Homo sapiens: one gene and its partners. The protein of the gene in region 3 purifies or fractionates together with the protein of the main gene of each other region. This does not show direct contact. Each region holds a gene or a part of one and is shown on either strand. Other genes may lie near its edges.

Evidence for each region.
Region 1: the proteins of TALDO1 (region 3) and ATG2B purify together in Homo sapiens (affinity purification with mass spectrometry; 2 studies listed by BioGRID and IntAct, with this or other methods). This does not show direct contact.
Region 2: the proteins of TALDO1 (region 3) and CFDP1 purify together in Homo sapiens (affinity purification with mass spectrometry; 2 studies listed by BioGRID and IntAct, with this or other methods). This does not show direct contact.
Region 4: the proteins of TALDO1 (region 3) and TKT fractionate together in Homo sapiens (co-fractionation; 2 studies listed by BioGRID). This does not show direct contact.

What each region holds. Positions count from the first base shown.
Region 1 is NC_000014.9:96,360,341-96,368,005, forward strand, and holds the start of ATG2B (autophagy-related protein 2 homolog B), read right to left. Parts: upstream 3,002-7,665; 5' UTR 2,637-3,001; coding exon 2,475-2,636; intron 1-2,474. UniProt on the Homo sapiens protein: Lipid transfer protein required for both autophagosome formation and regulation of lipid droplet morphology and dispersion.
Region 2 is NC_000016.10:75,430,497-75,437,876, reverse strand, and holds the start of CFDP1 (craniofacial development protein 1), read left to right. Parts: upstream 1-4,373; 5' UTR 4,374-4,524; coding exon 4,525-4,588; intron 4,589-7,380. Other genes in the region: tigger transposable element-derived protein 1-like, read right to left, coding at 1,778-2,575. UniProt on the Homo sapiens protein: May play a role during embryogenesis.
Region 3 is NC_000011.10:750,454-757,475, reverse strand, and holds part of TALDO1 (transaldolase), read right to left. Parts: intron 1,598-7,022; coding exon 1,474-1,597; intron 1-1,473. UniProt on the Homo sapiens protein: Catalyzes the rate-limiting step of the non-oxidative phase in the pentose phosphate pathway. Catalyzes the reversible conversion of sedheptulose-7-phosphate and D-glyceraldehyde 3-phosphate into erythrose-4-phosphate and beta-D-fructose 6-phosphate.
Region 4 is NC_000003.12:53,232,023-53,239,044, forward strand, and holds part of TKT (transketolase), read right to left. Parts: intron 5,799-7,022; coding exon of another isoform or gene 5,775-5,798; intron 3,153-5,774; coding exon 2,961-3,152; intron 1,253-2,960; coding exon 1,134-1,252; intron 1-1,133. UniProt on the Homo sapiens protein: Catalyzes the transfer of a two-carbon ketol group from a ketose donor to an aldose acceptor, via a covalent intermediate with the cofactor thiamine pyrophosphate.

The DNA of each region.
Region 1 (7,665 bases), on a different chromosome or scaffold from region 3:
AAAGCAACCACTTTTCAAAGACTACTTGTACTATGAGGAGAACATTTGAAAAACTGTATTTGGAAATGTTTCCATTGTTCCATGATTTTGTTGCTGAAAACAATGTCTATTAAAAACATTGCTTATTTTTTAAGTCATTATCTATATAGTTTACAAAATGTTTAAAAACATGAAAAGACTATTCCAACCAATCTAAGTCTTCTGAACAAAGAGCTTGAAAAACTGAATTTTAAACCTAATTGTGTGTATATATGCAATGTCAATTAGCCATAATAGAAAAACTAATTGAGATCAGGAATGAAAGGAATGTCATTGCTGAGTTCAACAAAATTCTTTGCATAATTGATCATTTAGAATTGAAACAGTAGGAGTACAGCAATTCTTCAATTAGCATCAGTTTTTCCATTAGGATCTGTGAATCTCCGAAGGTACCTTTTTTTCAGTCATGTAAGTCATTAAAATCAAGTATCTGGCTGGGTCCTATGGCTCATGCCTGTAATCTGAGCACTTGGGAGGCAGAAGTGGGAGGACCACTTGAAACCAGGAGTTCAAGACCAGCTTTGGCAACAAAGCAAGAGAATGAATCCTCTACCAAAAAAAAAAAAAAAAAAAAATCAAGTGTGAAAATAAACTGAATTTGGAATCAGAACTCTGAACAGCTGTATCTAAGGGTCACACTAAGATTTATCCTAACCATCAACACAGCACATGAAAATAAATCAGCAACAGCAAATGTTTACTGGATGCTTTGACATTATCATTTTAGTTTACAAAACCCGCCCATCAAGAACAAAACATCATCCTCAGATTAAGTTTAGTAATAAATCATTTTGCCAATGATTCTGAACTCAAACTATAAAATTCAAATATCACTACCTCTGATTTCCCATAAGGACTAAATAAAACCTCACAAATGAAAGTGCCTAGTACAATGCCTGACATAAATACATACTCAATAAACATTAACTGCCTTTCTTTTGATCTTAGGCCATGTGATGTAATACTTGCTAGATGTGTGATGGGGCAAACTGCTTAACTCCATCTGTAAAATGGAAATATTAATGCCCACCTTATAGGGTTAAAGTCATTAAAGGATAATGCATACAAAGCCCTTCCACCCACAAAAGGCATTAATAAATCCTGAACCCTCTTTTTTCAAGATAACCTATTCATAACTGTATCAAAAGTATAGAATCATGGGTTGTTGAATTCAAAAATATCCTTCAGAATCCCTATCTTTTGGAAGAATTACAGGAATACAATACCATAAGACGGACGACACAGAGATGAAGTGTGTGCTCCATTAGTGTTTACTGAACTCAGGTGAATTGCTAAGTCCATTATCACTCGGCTAATTGTGGCGGTCTGGAGAGTCTCTCCAGGGGTAGGACTCTCACCTCCTGGTGAGCGACTGGGTCTTACTGCTCTCAAACCAGGGCTCTTTCCACTATCTTGTGTCCTCTCCCTAGTTTATGTCAGGTACATACTGATAAAATTATATACTGATTTATAGTCTCTAGCACAAATTCGCTTAAGGGTCATAATAAGGTATTTCCATAATTTAAGATTTTCTGTGGCTAAGGAAGTAAGGGTTGGGCAAAGGGTAGAAGTCACTCTATTCCTGTCAAACCCAAAAGTGAATATACTTTAAGTAAAATGCTATGCATTGAACACACAAATGCAGGTACGACTGCATGTGGTGAGTCGAAATTCAGATGAAGCACCTGTATAGCAATGAGTGAATTCACAGCCTCTAGATGACAAGTAGAAGGCAGGTTTTAAAATGTCTGAAAATTGCAACTTCAGCGCTTTTGCAACACCTGCTTTTACGATCTGTCACGTGGAGCAAAGAGGCATAACTCAACAGCACTACTAGGGCCAGACGACCATTCACAGGCTGGATACACAAACCTATCTTGTAAACATATAATCAAGCAAAAGCAGGCAAACCGGCACAAGAGGCCTTCACCTAACTTTCTTCCAGATGGCAAACGCTGCACGATGACAAACAAGGCAAACATGGTGCGCAAGCAGCCAACCCAAAACAAATAACTAGGGATTCTGACATCCAAAGGTCCTCTTCATCCTTAATCCTTCCAGAATGTCATCCCACAAGGCAGGGTTTGTTTGCCACAAAACCCTGCGGCCCCTCACATCCCGAGGGACAGTTCTGGTCACCTCCTCCCACGGACCTATTGAGCCTGCTTCACAGACCCCCGAAGCACTGACTCAATTATTCCCACAGTGTAGATTCCATTACATCTGTTAAAGTTTCCGGAACACGTGATTTAGGAGAGCAAACTTGTTAGAAACAGATTAAACAACACTCTAACACATTTCTCTGAGCCGTGTCACACTCGGGTCCAAACAATTCCCAAGGAGGGACTGACTGTCACCAATCTTGGATGGCACTGGTTCAAAGCGCCCTAAAGAGGGGAGCGAGCCCCGCCCGGCTCGCCGCCGGCAGCTCTTACCCATTTGTCCAAGGGGACCTGGGCGAGGGACCCGGTGCCTTGGTACAGGTCCAGGCTGAGCTGCTCCAGGCTCAGCTTCTCCTGCAGAAAGTGGCCCAGGTACCTCTGCAGGAGGTACCGGCAGGCCCTCTTCTTGATGGACTCCGAAAACGGCCAAGGCATAGTGACTGCTGGCAGCTGGGCTGACTGCGGCTGCGGGTTGCGACGGCTCCGGCCTCGGGGTAGCGACTCCGGCTCCAGGCCGCGGCGGGGCCTAAGCCTGGGGCGGCCCCTCCATCCCTATTTGGTGCCGGGAGTCCCTCAGGGAGACCCCATCGCCGGCGCCGCACCGCTCGCGCTGGGCCTGGCGGAGGCAAGACGCAGAGGGGTCCTCCTGGCCCCAGGCCAGGGGACTTCCGAGGAGGGTCCCAACCGGCTCGGAGAGAGTGCAAGAGAGCGCGAGAGGAGGCGGCAGGGGCTGAGGCAGCCACCGCCACTGCCGCCGCGCGACGAATTTGTTGTCATCCGCGAGGCGCGTTCCCGGCTGTAGGGACGCTCCTGGCGCGTTCACGAGACCCAGACTCCCGGCGCGCCGCCGGGCGCTGGCGGAAGTGACGCCACACTGGGGCCGCGGAAGGCGGGCAGAAGGGCGGGGGCTGGAGCAGTTCCGGCTCCGAGGGGGCGGGGCGGAAGAAGGCGGGGAGGGAGGGGGCGGCACCGCCGGTCGGCTCCAGTCGCCTCCGGAGGAAGGAAGAAGAGGACGCCGGGCGCGCAGGTGAGCGGCAGCCGGGGTGGCTGCGGGCGAGGGGCGGCCCCCGAGAAGGGCTAGGGGCTCGGGGCGCCGGCGGGCCGTCAGGCCTTCCGGATGGGGACGCGACGCCATGCAGCTGGCTGGGCCGAGAGGGGCGGCAGGCTGCAGGGGCCCCGCGCCCGTGTTAAGAGGGGTCTGGGGGCCGGTCTGGCCGGCCTGGCTCTCCCGGCTCCCCTCAGACCTCGGCGCCCCGGAAACGCACACTTGGGGCTCCGCCGTCTCCGCTGGGAGGACTGGAGCCCTTCTCGAGCATCCCCGCCCGCACCCGAGCATTGACCGGTGCCCATTGTCAGCAAGTTCTTCGGCCCCCGCCTCATTCAGGTATTGTTTCTGAGGCAGCTTCTTCGTTGCCGTTTGCCTGGCGGTTTGCAGAGCGCTTCTCGCATACGCTCGCTTAATCCTGGGTGTGTCATAGCAACGATCAGGAAACTTGGGTTTTCGAAGCATCTGTGGGCAAAACTGCATTCCTTGAGAAATGCTAAAGGCTCCTGACCCCGCCGGAACCTGGGTGAAGAACTTGGGCTGTTCTGGCAGTCTGCGCAATCGTATTTCTGCCTTTTGGGAGGTAACTCCTGCAGAGGCGGAGCCGGCTGTTAAGTTAAGTCAACCTCGAAAGGCCTGGGTGCGGGTGTTCTATGGCCCAGAAGCCAGATGTCCTTCGTTAGAATCCCGGCACTGACACCTATTAGCCGCCCAGCCACTTTGAGCGGCCACTGCCCTCCCCGAGCCCACGTTGCCTCCTTTGCCGAGTGTGAGCGGATTAAAATCTTATGTGCATGGATTTGTTGGGAAGATTAAATGATATGAGTAGGGCACGAACCTGAACAGAGTCCTGAAACATACAGCTGTTTAATCACAGTGAATTAAGACGACCAGTTTAAGGAGTGAAATGTTTACTGTCTCGGCAACTTTCATGAATGCCTTGGAAATACAGCCCAAAATATTGGTAGATGGAGAAACATCTGGTTCCCCTTTCCACAACCACCTTTTCGTTTTAGAACCAGGGTACTTTGTATGCAGTTGCTTGGATTGTTGATTTCCCTCATTCTTTGTAGACTCATCTCAAGTATTCTCAGTAACTTAGATTCCCTTGCTCTTCATTCAGAAATATTTGTTAAGGTCCATTAAATGAAAGTCACCACAGTTGATCATGTGAACAGTGTCAAGAATCAGGCCGAACCTTCAAGGAGTTTATGTTCTAAAACGGAAGCATGGTGGTACCTGCTTGTGGAGGCTGAGGCGGAAGGATCGCTTGAGCCCAGGACTTTGAGGCTGCATAATTGCATTGACGCTATCCATAGAGTGCCTGCAATTTCAAATATCAGAAAGGATCGTACGAGCTATGATCATGCCACTGCACTCCAGCCTGAACCACAGAGCAAGACCCTTTCTCTCAATAAAGTGGAAGTTTGTTCATTTATTCAGTAAATATTTATTGATTGCCTTCTGTGTGCCAAGCACTGTTCTAGGTACTGGGATTACAGCAGTGAACAGATAAATCTCTTCCTTCCTGGAACTTACATTTTATTGAAGGGAGGAGACATACAATAAATGAGTGAATAATATGCTTTGTGGTGATAAGGGCTGTTGGAAAAACGAAAGCAATGTAAAGGGAGTGGAGATGGGGAAGAGAGAAGGGACTTGCCATTTTTATATGAGATGGTAAGAGAAATTCTCTTGTTTAATAAGATTACATTTTAGCAGAAACTTGGAGAAAGCTGGGAAGTGAGGCACATGTATACCTGGAAGAGTTGTTTTCCATGCAAGGGGAACAGCAAGTGCAACGCCCTGTCACGGGAGAATGCTTGATGAATTTAGGGAACATCAAGAGTGAGTGAAGGAAAAAGTAGAAGCTGGGCAGTTTGGGGGTGGGGGGTGGGGCGGGCGGGGCGCAGAGGAAGCACATCATGTAGGGCCTCGTAGGCCATTGATAAGAACTTTGGAGCCGGGCACAGTGGCTCACTCCTGTAATCCCAGAACTTTTGGGAGGCCGAGGTGGGCGGATCACTTGAGGTCAGGAGTTCAAGACTAGCATGGCCAACATGGTGAAACCCTGTCTTTACCAAAAATATATAAAAAATCAGTCAGGTGTGATGGCGTGCACCTGTAATCCCAGCTACTTGGGAGGCTGAGGCAGGAGAATTGCTTGAACCCGAGAGGCGGAGGTTGCAGTGAGCCGAGATTGTGCCACTGCACTCCAGCCTGGGCAACAGAGTGAGACTCTATCTTAAAAAAATAAAAAGAACTTTGGCCTTTACTCTGGGTGAGGTGGATTTAGGAGAGGAGTGACACAGTATGGCCTAAGTTTCTATGGGATCATGCTAACTGCTGTTAAGAATAGTCTGGTGTGGAAGTGGGAGGGCCAGAGTGAAAACAGCAGAACCAGTTAGAAGGATATCACCGTAATGCAAGGAAAAGATGACAGTGGTTTGGACCAAAGCGGTAGCGGTGAAAATGATTAGTTAGAAGCAGTTGGATTCTGGATATATTTTGAAGATAAGACATGTTTGTAAATAATAATTCTAATATTTGCCATAAAAGGAATACAAACAAGGTGGTATGAAAAGGCAAAGGTGGGATCTTGCAAGAAATTAGAATAGGCTTTGGAAGGTTTGAAATAGACTTCTGACAAATAGATACAATTTGGACTTCTTTCAGCAGTTATTAAATAAGTGGTTTCCTTTTTCAATATAGAATTGCATTCGGGCTATCCATAGAGTGCCTGCAATTTCAAATATCAGAAAGGAAAATTAAAACGACGGTTTTGCAATAACAAATATGCTCTATTCAGAGTATTGTGTGTTGCCTTGTAAACTTTATGCTTTCTAGGAGAAATTCAGTATAAATGTTAAGGTTTAGGACCTGTCATTATGATATCTTTGGCTACAGTAGGGTACAAACTCATCTCAAATCACAGTGCCATTTTTGTGTTTTGTCAAAGACAAAGTACCTGTCACAAAATGTTAACACCTTGCATTAATTAAGGAAGATGAAAATAATTACCCTGGCCAGGTGTGGTGACGTGCCCCTGTAATCCCAGCACTTTGGAAGGCCAAGGCCGGAAGGATCACCTGAGACCAGGAGTTTGAAACCAGCCTTGGTGCCAGAGCAAGACCCTATTTCAAAAAATAATAATAAATTTTAAAAAAGAAAATAATTACCCAACCGAATATTGTCAGCTTATTAAGAATTATGTAAAAGTTTGAAGTGACAGGTGAGAGGCTGTATGCCAGAGGCTAAATGGGTCATGTCAAAATAATCCTCCTTCAGAGAAATCTGTTAACATGGGAAATGAAAGAAAAGCCAAGGAGATGTATTTGACCTTTTTTAATGACTTGCACCTGAGGTAACAGGACGACGCTGTCAGGGCTCCACACCTCACGGCTCTTGGAGGAATTGTACAACACAGCAGCAGCCAATCCCCCACATAATGTAAAGAGCACCTAACTTGGAGCCACATGGCTTGAGCTTCAGGGTCAGGCTTTCTTCTTGAAAGATAGTGTTAAATACTTTTAATATAATAGATTATATTTTTTCAGCTGTTTGCCCAGCACAGTTCTAAGCACTTTCCATGTATTCATTCATTTAGTTCTCTCAATATCACTTAAAGGTAGATGCTATTTTAACATCATTTTAAAGAGGAGGAATGTGTGACTGAGAAAGATTAAAACATCTTTTTCCAAGTCCCAGAGTAAATTAAGTGGCCAAGCTAAAATTCTAGCCCCAGTCAGTCTGCTTGAGAGCCTGTTAACCATCACATCTTCCTGGCCCCTTGTTCATATTGAGAGGATTTACCAGGTTGTAGTGTGTGATACAAATAAAGGTAATCATGATTAAGATATCGTATCCTGCCCTCAGCTGACTGTTAACAATGTCAACTGAAAGGTCAGACTTTCAAAGTGAAAATTTGCACTCCATATGTTCTTGAAATCTTTCTGGGGCTGTTCTTTTGTCAGACTAAGTATATATGACTGTCTTTGCCCATTTTTTTGTCATCAAGGATAAAGCTCTTTGATGCTCTGAACTCGTAATGAAACAAAATAGTCTAATAAATTAGGAAGTAAAGAATAAACGATTTAGTAATCAATGTCATAATAACCAGTTGGATGAATCCTCCAAAAACACAAACACCCGAACACCGCCCAAAAATTATGGAGAAAGAGCTGGTTCCTAAATAATTTATGTATGATGTTTTAAGGAATCATTTATGGAAACTTTACATCAGGTGATACAACCTACCAGAATAAATAATAGCAATTGTCAAGTATTCCAATTTTTGTCTCTTTGCTAGAAACAGAATATTGCTCAGGATCTGGTAGAGAACCAATTTGGAGTTTAAATGGAAAGCAGTGAGGTTTTCTATTTTATGTCTCTGTAGATATTGATTTATGTTTGTTAGAA
Region 2 (7,380 bases), on a different chromosome or scaffold from region 3:
CCCTCTGCCACCCAGGCCGGAGTGCAGTGGCGCGATCTCGGCTCACTGCAAGCTCCGCCTCCCAGGTTCATGCCATTCTCCGGCCTCAGCCTCCCGAGTAGCTGGGACTACAGGCGCCTGCCACCACGCCCGGCTAATTTTTTATATTTTTTAGTACAGACGGGGTTTCACCGTGTTAGCCAGGATGGTCTCGATCTCCTGACCTTGTGATCCGCCTGCCTCAGCCTCCCAATCAATAAGGCTATTTTTAAAAGTTTGCTGGTATAGAGCCATTGCAATGTCTTATTAATCACATGCATGTCTCATCTATTCCTTGATTCACAAAAGATTTATTTCTTGATTTCCTGGATTTACAGACCCAGTCTAGTCCAGAGTGTCAATGAGGAGCAATTTCAGCTGACAAAAACTCATATTTGTATACAAGATAAACAAATAGTTGCCGGGCACGGTGGCTCACGCCTGTAATCCCAACATTTTGGGAGGTCGAGGCAGGCGGATTGCCTGAGGTCAAGAGTTTGAGACCAGTCTAGCTAACATGGTGAAACCCCGTCTCTACTAAAAATACAAAAAAAAAAAATAGCCGGGCGTGGTGGCGTGCGCCTGTAATCCCAGCTACTTGGGAGGCTGAGGCAGGGGAATTGCTTGAACCAGGGAGGTGGGGGTTGCATTGAGCCGAGATCGCGCCACTGCACTCCAGCCTGGGCGACAGAGAGAGACTCCATCTCAAAAACAAACAAAACCAAATAGTGTGGTAGTCATTGGTGTCTCTTCTGAATTTGCTTCTGATTGTTACCTCATAAATAGATCATTAAAATGTTTTAATCTGAAGAAATGGTAAAGATTATATATGGTTGTACTTCCATATGGTTTAACTTGAAGGGTTCCTGTGGATGATGGCTGCATTCCTGAATAGTCAATTCTTTGTATTCACAGTAGTTATGGCTATAAAGTTGTCGAGAACATTGAATTAGCAAAAACCGAACCATGGGTCCTGGGAGAAATACAGGGTTAGGTTCCTGTGAACCTCTGGTCAACACTTTTGTCAACTGATCGGTATGTAACTTTGTTTTATGTGTGTTTCTGTTCAAAGACACCTTATTTAATATGTATTTCTTAAAAATAATCTGCAGTATTTACAATAAAATTTCAATGACAGTAGTTTGGTGTAATGTACTCTAGTGTACTGAGATTGCACTACTTTTTTTTTTTGAGTCAGTCTTGCCCTTTTGTCTAGGCTGGAGTGCAATGGCATGGTCTTGGCTCACTGCCACCTCCGACCCCCAGGTTCAAACGATTTTCCTGTTTCAGCCTCCTGAGTAGCTGGGATTACAGGCGCCCACCACCACACCCAGCTAATTTTTCTATTTTTAGTAGAGACAGGGTTTCACCATGTTGGCCAGGATGGTCTTGAACTCCTGACCTTGTGATCCGCCCACCTCAGCCTCCCAAAGTGCTGGGATTACAAGTGTGAGCCACCGCGTCCAGCCTGTACAACCTTTTCATTGGCACACACAGAGTACACACATATAGTTCCCATATACAGTCAACAGTATAACATACTGTACAGTTCCCACAGTAAACACATACACTACTTTGCACACATACTGTATACCCTACAGTACAGCAATACAAATAAAGGGAAAAAGTTCAAAGATGGAGCATCCTAAGTTTTATAAAAATATCAACTAAAATCTTACGGTTGATGGAGCTGCACAATGTGGTTAAACCTCTCGACCTTGGCTTGCCCCACAGAAACCAGGGGAGGGGTGAGTGAAATTTATTCTGCAGAAGAGGAAGAGGGTGGCAGGTCAACCTCTGGCATTTCTACCTTAGGAGTCTGGCTCTTGACACTTGTTGAAGGAGTGGGCAATCTTCCCTCCCAAACTGGCTTGAGAAATTGCATTAGCCTTGCCTGCCTGGCTTTTCTGCCTGAAATCTTTAAGCATCTCGGTATAAGGGGCAAACGCAGTGGAGGCCAGCCATTTAAATTTGAGGCTTCGATCAAGCGTAGGGTCACACTCTTCCATGTCGCTAAAAATTTTTTCCAAGGCAGAACTCCATTCTGATATTTTGGCGCTGTGAGAGGGACAATTCTGGAAGTCTTGGGCCGACTTTCATGGCCATCAACTCCAATGCCTTCTTTTGCCATCTCATCCAGGTCTTCGTTGGTTGGTTCCACTGCCTTCTCTGCCAAAATGTACTCCACATCTCCTTCCTTCACGTCATCAAAGCCCTCTCCACTTACCTGCTGTGCCATATGCATTATGTCTCTGACAGTGTTCTTTATATTTTCTGTAACACCTTCAAACCCTTCAAAATTCTCCACGCAGTCTGGCCAAACATTTTCCCAACAGTTATTGGTAGTAGCCTGACCAATGCTCTCCCAGGCTGTACTGACATAATCAATAACGTTGCATGTAGTGACCGACTTCCAATAGTCCAGCATGGTGGTTTCCTTGTTGGTCCTGAGAGCCTCACAGGCCTTCATATAAAGCTCCCTTGTGTAGTGTGCCTTGAATGCTTTTATTATGCCCCGATTGAGGGGTTGGATGAGAGACTTAGTGTTTGGGGGCATAAAAAGAACTCCTATGTTGGCGTGTGCATTTTCGAGTTCTTTGCAGCAATGGATTGTAGCATTATCCAAAATTAACAAAACCTTGAAGGTGCCCGGCGCGGTGGCTCACGCCTGTAATCCCAACACTTTGGGAGGCCGAGGCAGGCGGATCATGAGGTCAGGAGATCAAGACCATCCTGGCTAACACGGTGAAACCCCGTCTCTACTGAAAATACAAAAAATTATCCAGGCGTGGTAGTGGACGCCTGTAGTCCCAGCTACTCGGGAGGCTGAGGCAGGAGAATGACGTGAACCCGGGAGGCGGAGCTTGCAGTGAGCCGAGATTGCGCCACTGCACTCCAGCCTGGGCGACAGAGCGAGACTCCGTTTCAAAACCAAACCAAAACAAAACAAACCCAAACAAACAAAAAACAAAACAAAACAAAACAAAAAACCCTTGAAGGCAAGGTTTCTGCCCTGGAGACAGTGTTCAGCTTCTGGGATGAAGCAGTTGTGGAACCAATCAGACATCATCCACACTTTTTTGTTCCACCTCCAATAGACTGGCAGATGGTTCACGTATTTCCCGTTAAGTGCTTGTGGATTTTGGGTTCTTTACACCATTAGGAGTTTGCACTTTAGTCGCTCTTGGCATTGGCGCACAATAACAAGGGTGCATGATCCTGGCATGATTTAAAGCCAGGGGCTTTGGAGGCCGTTTGCATTATATAGGTTCGTTTGCCAACATCCTTGTAAAATAAGCCAGTCTCATCCGCATTGAAAACCTGCTCTTTCACATAACCCTTTTCCTGTATAACACTTAGCAAGTATTTTTAAAATTCTTCCGCAGCCTCCTGATCTGCAGAGCTCGCCTCACCTGCAAGTTTAACATTTTTCACCCCGTATCGCCTTTTGAAACGCGCGAGCCGGCCAGCACTCGCCGAGAAGGGCTTAGCATTTCTTTGACTCTGGGTAACGTGACCACAGATATCTTTGGCTTTCAGCCTCACCACAATGCTGTCCACTATGTTTTTTTTAATCGATTGACATCTCATGAATCCACAAATTTAGCCGCTTTTCCATCTTTTCCATCTTTGTCATAGCTTCATCACGCACGATGGAGGTCACTTCAGCACTATCCGGAGCGGCCTCACGGACAGATCGGTGAATTTCCTTTTCCTTTTTCTTGATGTACCGGATTGTCGACTCGTTAACATTGAGCTCATGGCCAACAGCACTGTAACTCATGCCTGATTGGAGCTTATCCAACACGCGGACTTTCTCCGTAAGGCACATCACGGTCTTCTTTCGCTTAGGAACACTGGGCAGAGCTTAAGCACTACGCTTGGGGGCCATTTTAGAAAGCAAAACCACCCACAAAAAGCAGAAAAAAAAGTGTCAGTAAACAGACTGCGGAAAGGACTCTTTGTTTACAGCACAGGAGCTGCGACTAGAAGGCGGCGCTTCTCCCAGTTCAAACTTCAGCTGGGAACCTTACCTCCGCCAACTCCAAATTTTCACCCTCTGCGCATGCCCGGGAAGAACCCCAGACAGTACCGTGATGATTGATTTTAGGGTTACAAATACATTTTAGCAAGTAAGTGAATTTGGCATTACGAATTAATGATTAATGAAGGTCACCTGTATTTCCATAGATATGTAATTTTATTTAAGCAGGTTTATTATATTAAGGCGGCGAGGCAGCGCCGAAGACTACAAGTTCCAGCATGCACCGCGTCCGGGCGGGTTCGGGCTCCCAGCGAGGGCTTCAGGGACGCCAGCCCGGAGGCATCGGCCGGAAGTGTCGTAGGGCAACCACGTAGTACTCTCTGCGCATGTGCAAAGCGCTGTCGGGGGCCGCCCTAGCTGCCGTCGCCGCCGCCGGGGCTCTATGGTCTCTCCCTAGAGCTTTGCCGTTGGAGGCGGCTGCTGCGGTCTTGTGAGTTTGACCAGCGTCGAGCGGCAGCAACATGGAGGAATTCGACTCCGAAGACTTCTCTACGTCGGAGGAGGACGAGGACTACGTGCCGTCGGGTGAGCGATTCCGCCTGAGGCGAGAAGCGAATTGCCCCGCCCCACGCCTCACGTGAGGCGCGCTCTGCCCCCGCGGGCGTCTGCCCTGTGGCCCAGGTGGTCCAGGGGGGCTCCTGTTCTCGAGCGTCCGCTCCCTCAGGCCCCTCATCCTCGGCCGCTCCGGCCCGAGGCGTGTGCGCGTGGCGGTTCTGTGCTCCCCTCCCGTTGGGCAGCTCCGGCCGCCGCCCCCTCTTGCAGCGCGGGAACCGGCACATGGACACGGCCCCTTGTCGCTAGGGACGCTCGTCGGTCAGCCCCGAACGACACCGCTGCTTCAGAAGTCGGGGCGGCAGTCCGAGCCTTGGAGGTTTTTTTCAGCCCTGGCCCGAGAGAGCTGCTGGCCACCACCCCGTCCAAGATAGAGCTGTCCGCTCTCCGCCTGGTTGTTAGAAAGTTCTGATAGAAAGTTCCCCCTTTGATGCTTTTTGCCTCATTGTGACGTCCACCCATCCTCTCCTCTCAGAACTTTCTTTCCTTAGGGATCTCAACCCGAACGGGGTGAGAATGAATCTTACTGAAGAAATCTTTCTGTTCCCCCTTCTTGGTCTTCCCCAGACAAACCGTCTCGTTGAAAGTATCTTCACCCATTCACATCTTCAGTTGAAAGACTAGACAAACAAGAAACAAACAGACTAACAAAACACAACCCAGGAGTCGTCCCTATTCTCTTTGTTTTACTTTGTTCTGTTCTGTTTTATTTAAAGACAGGGTCTTGCTGTTGTCTAGGCTGGAGTGCAGTGATGCGATCTTGGCTCACTGCAACCTCAGACTCCTGGGCTCAAGCGATCCTCCCGTCTCAGCCTCTGGAGTAGCTGGGACTGCAGGTGCAGGCTGCCACGCCCGCTAATTTTTTAAATTTTTTTTTTTTTTTTTTTTTTTAGAAATGGCATCTTGCTATGTTGCCCAGGCTGGTCTCGAACTCGTGGGCTCAAGTGATCCTCCCACCTCAGCCACCCAAAGTGCTGGGATTACAGGCATGAGCCACCGCGCCCCGGCTAGTGAAGTATTTCTAAAAGGCACGTTGAAAACTAGCCATTCCATTCCTGGCGCGGTGGCTCATGCTTGTAATCCCAACACTTTGGGAGGCTGAGGTGGGTGGATCACAAGGTCTGGAGATCGAGACCATCCTGGACAACATGGTAAAACCCCGTCTGTACTAAAAACACAAAAATTAGCTGGGCATGGTGGCACGCGCCTGTAGTCCCAGCTCCTCAGGAGGCTGGAGCAGGAGAATCGCTTGAACTCGGGAGGTGGAGGTTGCAGTGAGCCGAGATCACACCACTGCACTCCAGCCTGGGTGACAGAGCGAGACTCCGTCTCAAAAAAAAAAAAAAAAAAGTTAGCCAGTCCCATCACCCTCATCCCTATTTTATTTAATATTCCTCAGGAGAAACTTCTTTCCACCTTTTGAATTTGGTATTATATTTCTGTTGTCTATTGATTTAACCCATGTATAGTAGGTATCATTTTTAGTAGCCCCTGACCTCCTTCCCCTCATCCCAAACACACACACAAACACTTCCACCTTCGGGGCCTCCCCAACTCCGTAGTCTGCCGTTGAACCTGTGTCCAGTTTTAGTTAGATCAGTATTCAGTGTTTTTTTTTCTTTCGAGACAGTGTCTCGCTCTGTGGCTCAGGCTGGAGTGCAGTGGCACAGTCTCTGCTTAATGCGGCCTCTGCCTTCCCGGTTCAAGCAGTTCTGCCTCAGCCTCCTAAGTAGGTGGGATTACAGGCGCCCGCCAGCACACCCGATCGATTTTCTTTTCTTTTCTTTTTTTTTTTTTTTTTTTTTTTGAGACAAGAGTTTTGCTCTGTCTCCCAGGCTGGAGTGCAGTAGCGGGATCTCGTCTCACTGCAAGCTCTGCCTCCCGGGTTCACGCCATTCTCTTGCCTCAGCCTCCTGAGTAGCTGGGACTACAGGTCCCCGCCAGCACACCCGAATGATTTTTTTGTATTTTTAGTAGAGACGAAGTTACACCATGTTGGCCAGGCTTGTTTCAAACTCCTGACCTCAAATGGTCTGCCCGCCTCGGCCTCCCTGAGTGCTGGGATTACAGGCGTGAGCCACCGTGCCAGGCCCAGTGTTTTTTTTTTCTAATGACAGTGTGAATAAACATCATGTTGACAGCTGAACCGTATGTTATACAGATTACTTTTCCTGCACTTCTTGTTTTCTCTGGTGCTAATAATTGCCATTTTTTGTTGCTACTTAGCTGTCTATGTACTTAACTGCTGTAAACCAAAAATAAAATTCTAAGGCGCCCCCAACCATCTGAATGGACTTCCTCCTTAGCCAGGGCTCTTTAACATTTAACCTGAGAGACTGTTTTGGGCCATGATGGGAAGTGGGGGCTGAACCTGCCTCATTGTATGTCTCTGACATTAACATCGATGCAGACTTTAAGTCTGATAATAAACATTTTGCAACCTATTCTCTCTGAAGCCTGTCTGCTAAAAGCTTCATCTGTATGATAAAACTGTGTTCTCAGCCGAGCAGTGGCTCGAGCCTATAATCCTATCACTTAGGGAGGCAGAGGCTGGTGGATCATTTGAGGTCAGGAGTTCAAGACCAGCCTGGCCAACGTGGTGTAACCCCATCTCTACTGAAAATATGAAAATTAGCCAAGTGTGGTGACGGGCGCCTGTAATCCTATCTACTGGGGAGGCTGAGGCACGAGATCTCTTGAACCCAAGAGGTGGGGGTTGCAGTGAGTGAAGATCATGCTTCTGCACTCCAGCCTGGGTAACAGAG
Region 3 (7,022 bases):
AAAACAAATACAAATATTAGCCAGGTGTGGTGGCGTGCACCTGTAGTCCCAGCTACTTGGGAGGCTGAGGTGGGAGGCTGGCTTGAGCCTAGGATGTAGAGGCTGCAGTGAGCTGAGATTGTGACACTGCACTCCAGCCTAGGTGACAGAGCCAAACTCTATCTCAAAAAAAAAAAAAAAAAAAAATTTGGGGCCATCTGGACATGGGTGCAGGGCTCATCTGTTGATCACCCAGCCAAGCAAAGGCACCAATGTCACCCAATAACAGGAGCACCAAGGCCTCACTGATGCCACAGGGGTGCAACACCACGAGATGAGGAAAAGGGAGCTAAGAAGAGAGAGGAGAGGGTCAGACTCAGTGTCCAGAGTGGCTGTCACAACATGGTCAGGGGAGCCACTCACCAGCCACCTGGACCTAAGCAAAGCCAGTACCAGAGAGGGACCTGCTCCTGTGTGGTGCCCACGTTGCCTGCTCGGCACCATCTTCAAGCTTTGAATTATTACCCTGAAGAGAATCTAAAATGACATCTAAAATATGCAAAGCCACAGGCATGAAGAGGGCTCTACAGTTGCTTGGTTGGGTAAGGGAGTGGGGAGCTACTGCAAACAGGTACCAGAGAACATTCTGGGAGTTATAAAAGCTATTAAAAAATTAAAAAGCCAGGCACGGTGGCTCACGTCTGTAATCCGAGCACTGTGGGAGGCCAAGGCAGGTGGATCACTTGAGGTAAGAAGTTCGAGACCGGCCTGGCCAACATGGTGAAACCCTGTCTCCACCAAAAATACAAAAATTATAGCCAGGTGTGATGGCGCATGCCTGTAATCCCAGCTGCTCGGCAGGCTGAGGCAGGAGAATCGCTTGAATCTGGGAGGCAGAGGTTGCGGTGAGCCGAGATTGTGCCAGTGCACTCCAGCCTGGACAACAAAAGCAAAACTCTGTCTCAAAAAAAAAAAAAAAAAAAATACAAAAATGAGCCAGGAGTGGTGGCACACACCTGTAAGCCCAGCTAATTGGGAAGCTGAGGCAGGAGAATTGCTTGCACCAGGGAGGCGGAAGTTGTAGTGAGCCAAGATTGCTCCACTATACTCCAGCCTGGGTGACACAGCGAGACTCCGTCTGAAAAGTAAAAAATAAAATGACAGCCAGAAGGTAAGTGTTACCAGAGCTGGGGAGACTGACTACAGGAGGGGAGGAGGGGCCTGTGGGGGTCTGCAAGTGCTCTGCATCTTGACTGGGGTGGTATTTACAGGGTACACACATTGGCAAAACTCTCTGAACTGCTCATTTACCACAGGTGCAGGTTACTTCATGCAGATTACACTTCAATAAACAAAAATAGGCAAAAAGATAGGGTTTTTTTCCCCCCTTGAGTTCATGGTGTTTGAGAACTAAAATTCAGTTAGGGAGGGAAGCAAGGCCAACTAGACTAGCACGAGGGCCTAGCTGGGACCCTCCCGAGTCCAGGCACTCACCCGCCCAGCTTCCGGCCATAGGCAATCGCCTCCTCCACCAGCTCCTGGTAAGCGGGCATCTGTGCTGCGGCCAGGATCAGGGACGGGTTGGTGGTAGCATCCTGGGGCTTGTACTCGTCGATGGCTAGGGAAATAGTTTTCAAAAGCCAAAGTAAGTGGAGTACTTGCTTCCAACTGGAAACATGTGAAGGAACCCTGTAATTCCCCAGGACGTTAGGGGAGTCCAGAGCATTTCCGAAAGCGGGGTCCAGCCACACTTCTCACACCTTCTTCTGGGTCACTGAAGGTTCATCAAGAGGCGGCTGTTTGCATAATGATGGAACAACAAACACTAAGTGCCCAGCGATCAAATATGCCCCTGCAAGAGGTGACCTGTAACAGCATGGGAGTGAGCGGTGCGACAGCTGGGAGAACGCTGGTCAAAGGAAAATGTGCATCCCACTGCCGTACCACCACAAGGAGGCGCGCGGTCTAGTCATGAGCCACATGTGAACGCTGATCTTATGGACTGGGTCATTATCACCATACCCAGCTGCAACAGAGTCAAGAAGCCAAGGGGAGCTGGGCGCGGCGGCCCACGCCTGTAATCCCAGCACTTTGGGAGGCTGAAGCGGGTGGATCACGAGGTCAGGAGATCAAGACCATCCTGGCTAACACGGTGAAACCCCGTCTCTACTAAAAATACAAAAAACTAGCTGGGTGTGGTGGTCGGCACCTGTAGTCCCAGCTACTCGGGAGGCTGAGGCAGGAGAATGGCTTGAATCCAGTAGGCGGAGCTTGCAGTGAGCCGAGATCGCGCCACTGCACTCCAGCATGGGTGACAGAGTGAGACTCCATCTCAAAAAAAAAAAAAAAAAAAAAAAAAAAGGCCAAGGGGAAAAGCACTCAGGACACACAGCATTGCTCCAAAAATTATTACCTGCAAGCCTAGTTGCTGAAGCGGCCTCTAACCTGAAACCAGTTTATCTAATAGTTGCTGAACCGCACTGCTGCAACTTTAAGACTAATTTTATCCACTGCTATCACTCACCAATCATTCTTTTTAGGTTTCATAGAAAGACTAAATTAGCCAGGTGTGGTAGTGCATGCCTGTAGCGTCAGCTACTCAAGAGGCTGAGGCAGGAGGATCGCTTGAGCCCAGGAGGTTGAGACTGCAGTGAGCCATGATCATGCCACTACACTCCCACCTGGGCCAGAGAGCAAGACCCTATCTCTTAAAAAAATAAATTCAGGCCGGGTGCAGTGGCTCATGCCTGTAATCCCAGCATTTTGGGAGGCTGAGGCTGGTGGATCGCCTGAGGTCAGGAGTTTGAAACCAGCCTGGCCAAAATGGTGAAACCCAGTCTCTACTAAAAATACAAAAATGAGCTGGGTGTGGTGACACATGCCCGTAATCCCAGCTACTCAGGAGGCTGAGGCAAGAGAATCGCTTGAACCCAGGAGGTGGAGGTTGCAATGAGCTGAGATTGCACCACTGCACTCCAGCCTGGGTGACAGAGTGAGACTCTGTTTCATAAATAAATAAGCAAACAAATAAATAAATATCGCATTCAGTAGCTTCTGCAGGTAACTTGACAAAACCTGACCTAAGAATCCTTTTAGTCGGAGTGGACAACTTTGACAATGTCCCAAGTTTTTGTTCAAATTGTACTGGTGGTCCCTTTTATAAAGCTGACATTCTCTGCTTTAATCAACCCAGTCATAAAATGCTACTCAGTGGCTGGGCACAGTGGCTCACACCTGTAATCCCAGCACTTTGGGAGGCCAACGGGGGTGGATCACTTGAGGTCAGGAGTTCGAGACCAGCCTGGCTAACACGGCGAAACCCTGTCCCTACTAAAAATATAAAAATTAGCCAGGCGTGGTGGTGCATGCCTATAATCCCAGCTACTCGGGAGGCTGTGGCAGGAAAATCACTTGGACCCGGGAGGTGGAGGTTGCAGTGAGCCGAGATTGTGCCACTGCACTACAGCCTGGGCAATGGAGCAAGACTCTGTTGCAAAAAAAAATAAAAAAGTTTTTTTCTTCAGAGTAACCAACTAAACAGTTCAAAACGTCCAAACTTGTAGCCACTGAGTAGCTTTTTTTTTTTTTCTGACACAGAGTCTCACTCTGTCATCCAGGCTGGAGTGCAGTAAAATGATCTCGCCTCACTGCAACCTCCTCCTCCAGGGTTCAAGTGATTCTCCTACCTCAGCGTCCTCAGTAGCTGGGACTACAGGCTCACACCATGATGCCTGGCTAATTTTTGTACTTGTATTTATTTTTTATTTTTTTCCGAGACGGAGTCTTGCACTGTTGCCCAGGCTGGAGTGCAGTGGCGCAAGCTCAGCTCACTGCAACCTCCAACTCCCAGGTTCAAGTAATTCTCCTGCCTCAGCCCCATGAGTAGCTGGGATTACAGGCACGAGCCACCACGCCAGGCTATGGTTTTTTGTGTTTTTTTTTTTGTATTTGTATTTTTATTTTTTTGAGACGGAGTCTCGCTCTTTCACCCACGCCGGACTGCAGTGGCGCCATCTCGGCTCACTGCAAGCTCTGCCTCCCGGGTTCACGCCATTCTCCTGCCTCAGCCTCCCGAGTAGCTGGGACTACAGGCGCCCGCCACTGCGGCCGGCTAGTTTTTTGTATTTTTAGTAGAGATGGGGTTTCACCGTGTTAGCCAGGATGGTCTCGATCTCCTGACCTCATGATCCGCCCGCCTCAGCCTCCCAAAGTGCTGGGGTTACAGGTGTGAGCCACCACACCCGGCCTTTTTTTTTTGTATTTTTAGTAGAGACGGGGTTTTGCCATGTTGGCCGGGCTGGTCTCGAACTCCTGACCTCAGGTGATCCACCCACCTTGGCCTCCCAAATTGCTGGGATTACAGACGTGAGCCACTGCGCCCGGCCTCTGAAGAAACAACCTGAACTGCATTCCTCTGCTCTCATACCAGAATAATCAACAGAGAGGACTTCTGTGACCGATGTGTGGGGGTTTCTCCCCACGCACCAAACAAGCAATTAATTCTTCAGTGGATACCAGCTGGGCATCCTCCAATTCAATTCCAACCCTGTCTACCTGGAGACAGCCTCAGATCCCACAGGTTGAAGGCTTAGTCCCAACCAACCATTCTCCATTCCCACCCGTCACAAGTCTGGGCTCCAGAACTTCTGATCCACTGGCTTCAACTTGGGGTTGTCAACTTGAATTAACCTTTGTGTTCCATTAATTTGCTGGAGCAGATCACAGAAGTAAGGGAAACACTCACTTACATGTACTGGCTTATTATACAAAGGACACAGAGGAAGAGATGCATAGGGCAAGGCATGTGAGAAGGGGCACGGTGCCTCCATGCCCACCCTGGGTGCACCACCCTTCAGGAGGCTCCATGTGTTCAGGTATTTGGAAGCTCCCTGAACCCTGTCCTCTTGGGCCTTTTATGGAGACTCTACTGGAGAGACATGACTGAAGTATGGACAGCCCTGTTGAAATATTATCATCTAATGAGTGAGGAAACCCAGCAACGCCTCTGTGTTCACCTTCTTACCGTCCTCCGTGCAACATTCCTTCCTCCAGGGTATGTGATGGGACCCCTTTTGAAATGAGGGTCTTAGGACCCACAATTAGAAAAGCAAGTAGACGGCCGGGCGCGGTGGCTGGTGCCTGTAATCCCAGCACTTTAGGAGGCCGAGGCGGGCAGATCACGAGGTCAGGAGATCCAGACCATCCTGGCTAACACGGTGAAACCCCATCTCTACTAAAAAAAAAAAAAAAATACAAAAAATTAGGTGGGCGTGGTGGCGGGCGCCTGTAGTCCCAGCTACTCTGGAGGCTGAGGCAGAAGAATGGCGTGAACCCGGAAGGTGGAGCTTGCAGTGAGCTGAGATCACGCCACTGACTCCAGCCTGGGCGACAGAGCGAGACTCCGCCTCCAAAAAAAAAGAAAAGAAAAGCAAGTAGATAATTTATTTATGGACAGCTCCAAAACAGGCAGGAAAGATTCCTCCCTTGAAGAGAGAAAGGAACAGGTGAAAGGAGAGGAGAAGGTCAGTGATGGAAATTCTGTTTTCCAAGGCCTGCTCCTGAGGCCTAGAGTGCCCCAACATTATAACAGGGCTGTGGGAGTTATGAGACAGGAACTGTGTACACACACATGCATGCATGCACACACATCAATTACCATCAAAATGAGGTTGATGGTTTATTATTATTATTATTGTTATTTTGAGATGGAGTCTCGCTCTGTCGCCCAGGCTAGAGTGCAGTGGCGTGATCCCGGCTCACTGCAACCTCCGTCTTCCAGGTTCAAGCAATTATCTCGCCTCAGCCTCTCGAGTAGCTGGGATTACAGGCACCTGCCACCATACCCGGCTAATTTTTTGTATTTTTAGTAGAGATGGGGTTTCACCATGTTGGCCAGGCTGGTCTCGATCTCTTGACCTCAGGTGATCCACCCTCCTCGGCCTCCCAAAGTGCTGTGATTACAGGCGTAAGCCACCAGCCAAAAATTTTTTGTAGAGATGTGGTCTCACTGTGTTGCCCAGGCTGGTCCCGAACTGCTAGGCCCAAACAATCCTTCTGCCTCAGCCTCCCAAAGTGCTGGGGATTATACGCATGAGCCACCGAGGCTGGCCCCAACTTTCTCTTGTTCTTTGGACAGATCGAAGACCACCCAGTCTGCTTGAACTGCAATTTTTTCTTCCCAAATAAAACGTTGAATTTAGAGATTCGTCTCTACATTTTATTTTGACTTCAACACAGATACCACATGGTTATCTTCAGCAAGGATTGTTAGCTGGGAGTGGTGGCGCACATCTGTAGTCCCAGCTACTTGGGAGGCTGAGGTGGGGGGATCACCTCAGCCCAGGAGGTCAAGGCTGCAGTTAGCCGTGTTGCACCACGTGATTGCACCACTATACAGCCTGGGTGACAGAGCAAGACCCTGTCTCAAAAAAAACCCCAAAAACAAAAACCCAAGGATTCTTTATTCTTAAAACTATTGTTTCTTTTAACACATTAGTTATTTCTCACATAACCAAGCTAGGAATTCAAAGAAGCCAACGAGGCTTAACCTGGGGTCTTGTTCATCTGGCTGTCCAAATGGAAAGTGGAGGTGAAGAGTTATGGCCATTGACACCCATAGAATGGCCCATTGCTCCAGATTAGCCAGTTCAGTAACTTTTTTTTTTTTCTTTTGAGACAGAGTCTCGCTCTGTCGCCCAGGCTGGAGTGCAGTGGCGCGATCTCGGCTCATTGCAAGCTCCGCCTCCCAGGTTCGCACCATTCTCCTGCCTCAGCCTCCCGAGTAGCTGGGACTACAGGCGCCCGCCACCACGCCCAGATAATTTTTTTGTATTTTTAGTAGAGATGGGGTTTCACCGTGTTAGCCAGGATGGTCTGGATCTCCTGACCTCATGATCGGCCTGCCTCGGCCTCCCAAAGTGCTCGGATTACAGGCTTGAGCCACCACACCCGGCCGAAGTTCACAAGTTCAGTAACTTTATTTGGCAAATAAATATCTTTTTTTTTTTTTGAGACAGGGTCTCACTTTGTCTCCTAAGCTGGAG
Region 4 (7,022 bases), on a different chromosome or scaffold from region 3:
CATCTGTGAGCAGCAGAGGAGTCTATAAGCACCTAGGCATGCCCACCCCATGGCACCTTGTTGTGTGCGGCCAGGAAGGCTGAATATCCCTCTCCCTGGAGGTCACCTCAGTAGTCACTAGAGTCTGGCCAGAGCCAAGAACAGACTGAACTCCCAGGTAGCACCCAGCAGCCCGAAAGACTAGCAGGAGCCCCCAAGAAGCTGCAAGTGGTCCAGATCCTGCCCATTTTTAACACCAGAGGGCAGTGCCAGGCAGCAGCACCAAAGCCATGACAATATCCCAGAGCCCTTTCCTCGACATCCACCCCCTCCCAGACACCTCCCAGCACTGCCAAACCCCCACTCAGAACATCCTCATATACCTGAGTCTACATGGGCAGAACAAGCCACAACCCCTGAGAGCAGGCAGGTGGGCAGCCAGGGGCATTTGGCAGGGAAGCCGACCCAGGCCCTGGGATCAGCCCCCCTCGTGCCATAGACTTCCTCTGTCCCCGGGCAAGTCCCTGACCACTTGTAGTCTCATTTTCCCATCTTTAAAATGGGTGAGGCCATCCCAGGCCTAGGAATCTGAAGCCCACACCTGGGTGCCAGGGAGTGACTTACGCCTGCCTCATTCTCCGGCCTGGGGCAGAACCCAGGTTCCAAACCCCCCAAGGCTCTTGGCCCACACAGGCCTTGCTCAGCATCTGCCATTGCTTGAGGAGTACCCCACTCACCTCCTGGAGGGAACAGTTCTCTCCGGGCCCTGCCTGGCTCTGTGTCGGCCCTTCAGCTGGAGCAGGTGGCCGGAGCTGGCAGAGCACACACAGCTGCAGCTCTGAAAGGCACCAGCCAGGGTGGGGCACGGGGGCTGCCTCACTCCACGACCTTCCTCTCACCCACAGACCCTCCAAGTCCCTCCTCTCCTCCTGCCTGTACATGCCCCCACCGGCAGAGGCCAGACGGATCTGAGTTTAAATCCTGGCTCAGCCACAGGGGTCACTGAGTCACAGCATCTCCCGCTCCCCTTCCCTGGAGCCTGGTGAGCTCAGTGAGCAGCAAGGGCTGTTTCCCTGGATGTGCGGGTCAGAGCTACGTAGCCACAGTGTCTGGGCGAGGGGTGAAGGTGGGGAGGGCGGCTTGTGCATACTGACCCGTGATCCCTCGGCCCTTGAAGGTCTTGGCAATGATGGCTGTTGGCTGGTGCTTGGCCTGGCCAAAGGCCTTGCACAGCTCCTCCACGCTGTGTCCATCCACGATGATGGCATGCCAACTGGGGACAGGGGGCAGAGAGTAAGGGGCAATTCCCAGGGGCCACAACACCGAGGAGCCTTCCAGGGAAAGGTCTGCCTTGGCAGCTGGGGTCTGCCCAGGCTCCACCCCACAACTGCGGCCTCAGCTGGAGTAGTAGAAAGCTTGCAACATTCCTGTTTCCAGTTTGGGTTTTTTAAATCCTTTTCTTTTTCACATTATTTTACTTCCTTTTGTTTGCCTCTGAACAGGTTTTCCTCCTCCTCTTAAGTAATCCAGAGCTCAGTTCCTTTATTGTCTCTTTCATTCCTGATCTGCTCATTTCCTACTGAAAGCTGTTCTGGGGTCAGCGCACTGGGTTTGGAATCTGTCTGCTATTAGATTCTTGATGAATTTTTTGGCCCAATTCTTATTTGGGGAACACATTTGATCACTCCACAGATGCTGGATGTGGTGCTGGAAATGTTTTTGAAATGAACCATGGAGTCAAATATACAGGAAGGAGCTGGGGCAGAGCACCCTTTCTCTTGAAAAGCTATCCTTTTGGGGACTCTTTTTGACATAAGAATAAAAATAGCACTTCTCAAACTGAGTGCCATGCCAACCACTACCCATATTAGCCCACTGAAGCCTCACCACGCCATGCTTGGGTGCTGAGCTGGCCCCATTGTACAGACAAATCAACTGAGACACCGAAGGTGGAGTAAGTAACGTGACCCACGCCACAAAGCAAGTTAGCGGTGGAGCCAGGACTTCAGGAATCTGGCTTGAGTCACGAGGTTATGGACACAGGTCCTGGGGGTGCTGCTGGGGTTGTACTCTGAGTCCCCAGATAGATGTGGCCTTGGGGAGGCCTGTGGGGTGAGGACCCTGTGGCTCAGTTTCCTCGCCTGTCCAACAGAGATTATTTCCTCCCTTCCTCCTCTCCCTTTCTGAGGTCAGTCATCAGGGAACACAGGCCTGCGTATGCTGTGCTACTGCAAGGTAACCCCAAGCATCCTGTTACTTAGTGTAGTCACAGGCATGGGTTCATCCGCAAAACGCAGTCCTGGAGGCCTGACCTGAGTCTCAAAGCCTTGCACGGCACCTGCCCTGCTCCCTCCCCTCCACAGCCTCCTCAGCCAATGCTGGGCCCCTGTGCAGAGCAGCTTGTGTTTGGCAACACCGGTGGAGGCTTTGAGGTGGAGCCCCTCTGGCTGACACCCATGCAGATTGACCTCCCTGCTTTGTGCCCTTTGACCCTGAATTTGTAACCAATCAAGGCCGAAGGGGGGCATCTGGAAACCCTATCTCCCATTTCACCAGGAGCCTGTTCCTCCTCCCCAGGCTGGGCGGGGCTGGGCACAGGACGTGGCCACCAAACTGAGGTTCAAACCTCTCCGCAGCTATACATCCTTTAGCTTTACCGAGCAAGCCCCCATCCCTCAAGAACCCTCCTTCCTCAAGAACAAAGCGAGCTGACGTGAGATGGTGTGTGGAAGCTCCGAGAGCCACCATGCCACAACCACGAAAACAAGGAAACTCACTTAAAACTGGGCCTGGCCCACATATCCTGAGCCATTAAGTCCAAATGCCTAGAGTTTGAAATTGTGAGTCAAATGCTAAAGAAAGGGACCTTTAGATGGTGCTTAAGGTCCCAGCTTCAGCTCCTGCACCTGCACCTGCAAAGCTGTGATCACAGACCACTCTCCCGTGCTGTGACCACACTCAGGCCACAGCCTCGTACATACCCGAAGGCCTCGCACCGCTTCTGGTAGATGTCCATCTGGTGCTGCAGTGGGGCCGGGTCACTCTGGCCCAGGCGATTGATGTCTAGAATGGCCACAAGGTTGTCCAGCTTATAGATGCTGGCGAAGGCCATGGCCTCCCATACAGAGCCCTCTGACAGCTCCCCGTCTCCCAGCAAGCAATAGACTCGGTAGCTGTGGACAGAGAGTGAATCAGGCCAGTCCCTCTCACCTGGACCCAGCTGGCTCCCACCCCCCCACCCATCCAAGGAGCCTGCATTCTGGGTAAAGGAGCAGCCACGCATGGATATGCAGAACAGATGGCATTTACACTCGAGGGGCAACAGTGTCACCAGGTTCCTGCAGCCTACCACAAGCCACACCCCAAGAGAAAATGGCATGAAGGAAGACGTCAGGAGCTCAGGAAGAAGTACTGGTTGTTAAGAAACAGAGGTCTAGGACAACAGGGATCTGGCTAATAAGATCTAGAAAAATGGGGGTTGTTGGAATGAGAGGAAAGTGAGGAAGGGTGGGTGAATAGGCTTGAGCCACCTGCTGCAGGGGACAGACCCCGCTGTGAACCAGAGGTTGGAGGAGGCCTTGGGACTGGCTGGGTGGGCCAGTGGGAAAGGGGAACCTTGGGAACCAAGCTCTGCTTCTGCCCGGAGGAGGGAGGTGGGCCAAGGAGGCCTGAGGCACTCTAGGCAACACCCTGGAGCAAGAGGGCTCTGGGGAGGATAGAGCAGAGGGCACTTGAGGACCAGGCGCTTCCTGGGACAGGCTCTCCCCAAGCTTCCAAGACTAGCTCTTGACCCCAAGACTGAAGCTGCACCTGGCTCTTTCTCTACCACAGGGGCCCTCTCCTCCCCTCAACACAGGCAACTGTGATCTTTTCAAGACAGTGAGACGTTAAAAAGAACACTGAACTTGGGATAAATTACCCAGCAAACAGAACGTTCCCGGCCTGGGAGATGTGAGGGGATGGGGGTAGCAGAGGGACGGCAGCAACAGACAGGACTTGTCTGAAGGTCGCGCTGTCAGGAAGTTGCTGAGCCAGGATTCAAACGCAGGTCTGACTGTAGCCTAGACTGTCCGCTCCTTGCCGTGCAGGCATGCAAGTAGGGTGAGGAGTGGTAGGACTTGGGGACCTCCCCTTACCCTGCCCAGTGTCTAGCTGTGTAGCCCTAGGAAATGAGGCTGGTGCCTGGTTGGGCTCAGAGGGGACATGGCTGCCCTCCTGCTCCTGCAGGAAAAGGCCCTCAACCCGGCTGCATGCTCAGCAGTCCAAGCCTCCAGGCCTCCCTGCCGCAGGGCCAAGGCAGGGGCAGCAGGAAGAGGCTGGGACAGCTAGCCACGGAGCTGTCAGCATGACTCAGCACTTCCACATGCCAGCAGGCCAGGAGCACTCCCTGCAGCCTCTCCTGCCTCATACTGCTCTTCTGTGGCCTCCACCACAGGAGGTGGTGCCCCTGTGGGGTACCATGGCCAGAAGGACAAAGCCTCAGGCCCACACTTCAGAGGCCCTATCCTGTCCCAGCCTTGCCTCCTCTTTCCCCTGTAGGTTTTGAGGGGGCCCAGAGACCCTGCAGGGACTCTGGTCTGGCACAGCAGCTCCAGAAAGGGGCCACATGATGGGGCTGAGCCAGAGAAGCCAACTCGACTTCCCAGAAAGGGATTCCAGGGAAGGCAACTGGCTGCCACCCCAAGCCCACACCCACTTCCAGGGAAGTCGAACCGAGGCTAGCACTGGAGGCCCAGCACAGCTTTGGCTTCGAGACTAGGGACAAGGCTAAGCCCTACAGGGCCATCAGGCTCAGGTCAGAGGGCGTGCTGAGGTCCCGAGGAGATGCCAAGGAAGGGGTTGTGAACAGGGAAGGGGCCTACAGGAGCCTGGGCTAACCCTGAGGCTTGGTATTGCCTGAGCTGTTAGAGTTAGGGGTGGGGGGCTGCAAACATCCATTCATGAACTAATTTGAAGAGAGGGAACCCTAAACAGAAGGTCGACATTTGTTGTAGAACGATTTGGAAACTACCTTACGTGTCCAACAACAAAGGACTGGCTAGATGGATTATAGCATCTCCATAAAACAGAATATTATGTGATCATTAAAACCAGCTCTCAGGATGTGTGCAGTGGCTCACGCCTGTAATCCCAGCACTCTGGGAGGCTGAAGTAGGGAGATGACCTGAGGTCAGGAGTTTGAGACTGACCATCCTGGCCAACGTCATGAAACCCCGTCTCTACTAAATATATAAAAATTAGCTGAGTGTGGTGGTGCGCGTCTGTAATCCCAGCTACTCGGGAAGCTGAGGCAGGAGAATTACTTGAACCCAGGAGGCGGAGGTTGCAGTGAGCTAAGATGGCACCACTGCACTCCAGCCTGGGTGACAGAGCAAGACTCCATCTCAAAAAAACAAAACAAAACAAAAAAAACCAGCTCTCCACTGTTAATATCAGGAGAAAAAGCTCATGATAGAAGGCTTGGTTTAAAGTGTAATACTAGATTTTATATTATACACACACACACACACACACACACACACACACACACACACTGGGATTACAGATTTGTAAGCTTTTCTCATGATAACATGGACAAAATACATCATTAGATTTAAATTGGGGGTGGGAGGCAGTGTGCTAAGAATAAGGAAAACATTGGTTGGGTGCAGTGGCTCATGCCTGTAATCCCAGCACTTTGGGAGGCCGAGGTGGGCAGATCACAAGGTCAGGAGATTGAGACCATCCTGGCTAACATGGTGAAAGCCCGTCTCTACTAAAAATACAAAAAATTAGCCAGGCGTGGTGGCACGTACCTGTAGTCCCAGCTACTCGGGAGGCTGAGGCAGGAGGAGAATCACTTGAACCCGGGAGGCGGAGGTTGCAGTGGGCCGAGATCGTACCACTGCACTCCAGCCTGGGTGACAGAGCGAGACTCCATCTCAGAAAAAATAAAAATAAAAAAATAAGGAAAACGTTCATTTCTTAATATCATTCTGTACTTTTTAAACAGGAGGGCAGGGAGAAACAGTGAGTGGAGACCAGTTTGCTCTATCAAGACGCTACCTCCGGGTGCCTGGCCTGACATGATAATCCCTGGATGCCCTGGCCCCTTCCCCCAGGTACAGTCAGGGGCCTAGGCTCCAGGCAACCCTGGCCCCAAGCCACCCTGGCTTCTGGGAACCCAGCTAAACTCCTTCTCCCTACACTGACTTGTTCCATTATGTTAGGGTCAGGAAATGCCCCTTCACAGGGAATTATTTCCAGCAACTGTAGGGAATAATTAACTCACATCTCTGGTTCTCTGCCAAATAAAATGCTCTTAAACATGCATCTCATTCTTTGTGTGTCTCTCTCTCTTTACTTCATGGTGAATCACTTCTGGGTGTAGCCAAGCCTGCCCCAAGGCTCACCAAGGAATGAAAGCAAACTGTGGTCAGGTGACACTGGCCTGAAGGGGTCTGGAAGGGACTGTGAGGCCTCCTTGGAGAGCCAGTCCTGGGGAAGGGCCTGCACACAGAAGGTGCTCCCTGCAGCCTCCTGTCCTTCAAGGACCCACAGTCTTCCCGAACCCCACTATGGCACTTCTGCTGCAGGAGTGGAGGACAGGGCAGTGGAGATGCCATCAGCTGCAGAACTGGGCCCTTCTCACACCCTGCGGGCTGGCCCCACTGGCCTTCCTCCTCTAGGAGGCTTCCCGCCCACAGGACTCCCCGAGCTCCTGTGGTGCCCTCAGCCTCTCCAAGAGCAGCCTGGGTACCTCCACCACCAACTGGATGGCCTAGGCCAGCATCTTGCCTCAGCTTCCTCACCTGTAAGACGGGTCACGGTTCTCACACCACTACCCAACTCACAGGGGGCTTTTAAAGGTGGAACCCAATACAGCACATGAGCACTGAGCACAGGGCCTAGCCCCCAAAGGGCAAAGGAACCCTTCTGATGAGTGACTGACATGGTTAGGCTCTGGGTCCCCACCCAAATCTTACCTTGTAGCTCCCGTAATTCCTACTGGTTGTGGGAGGGGCCCAGCAGGAGATAACTGAATCATGGGGACAGGTCTTCCC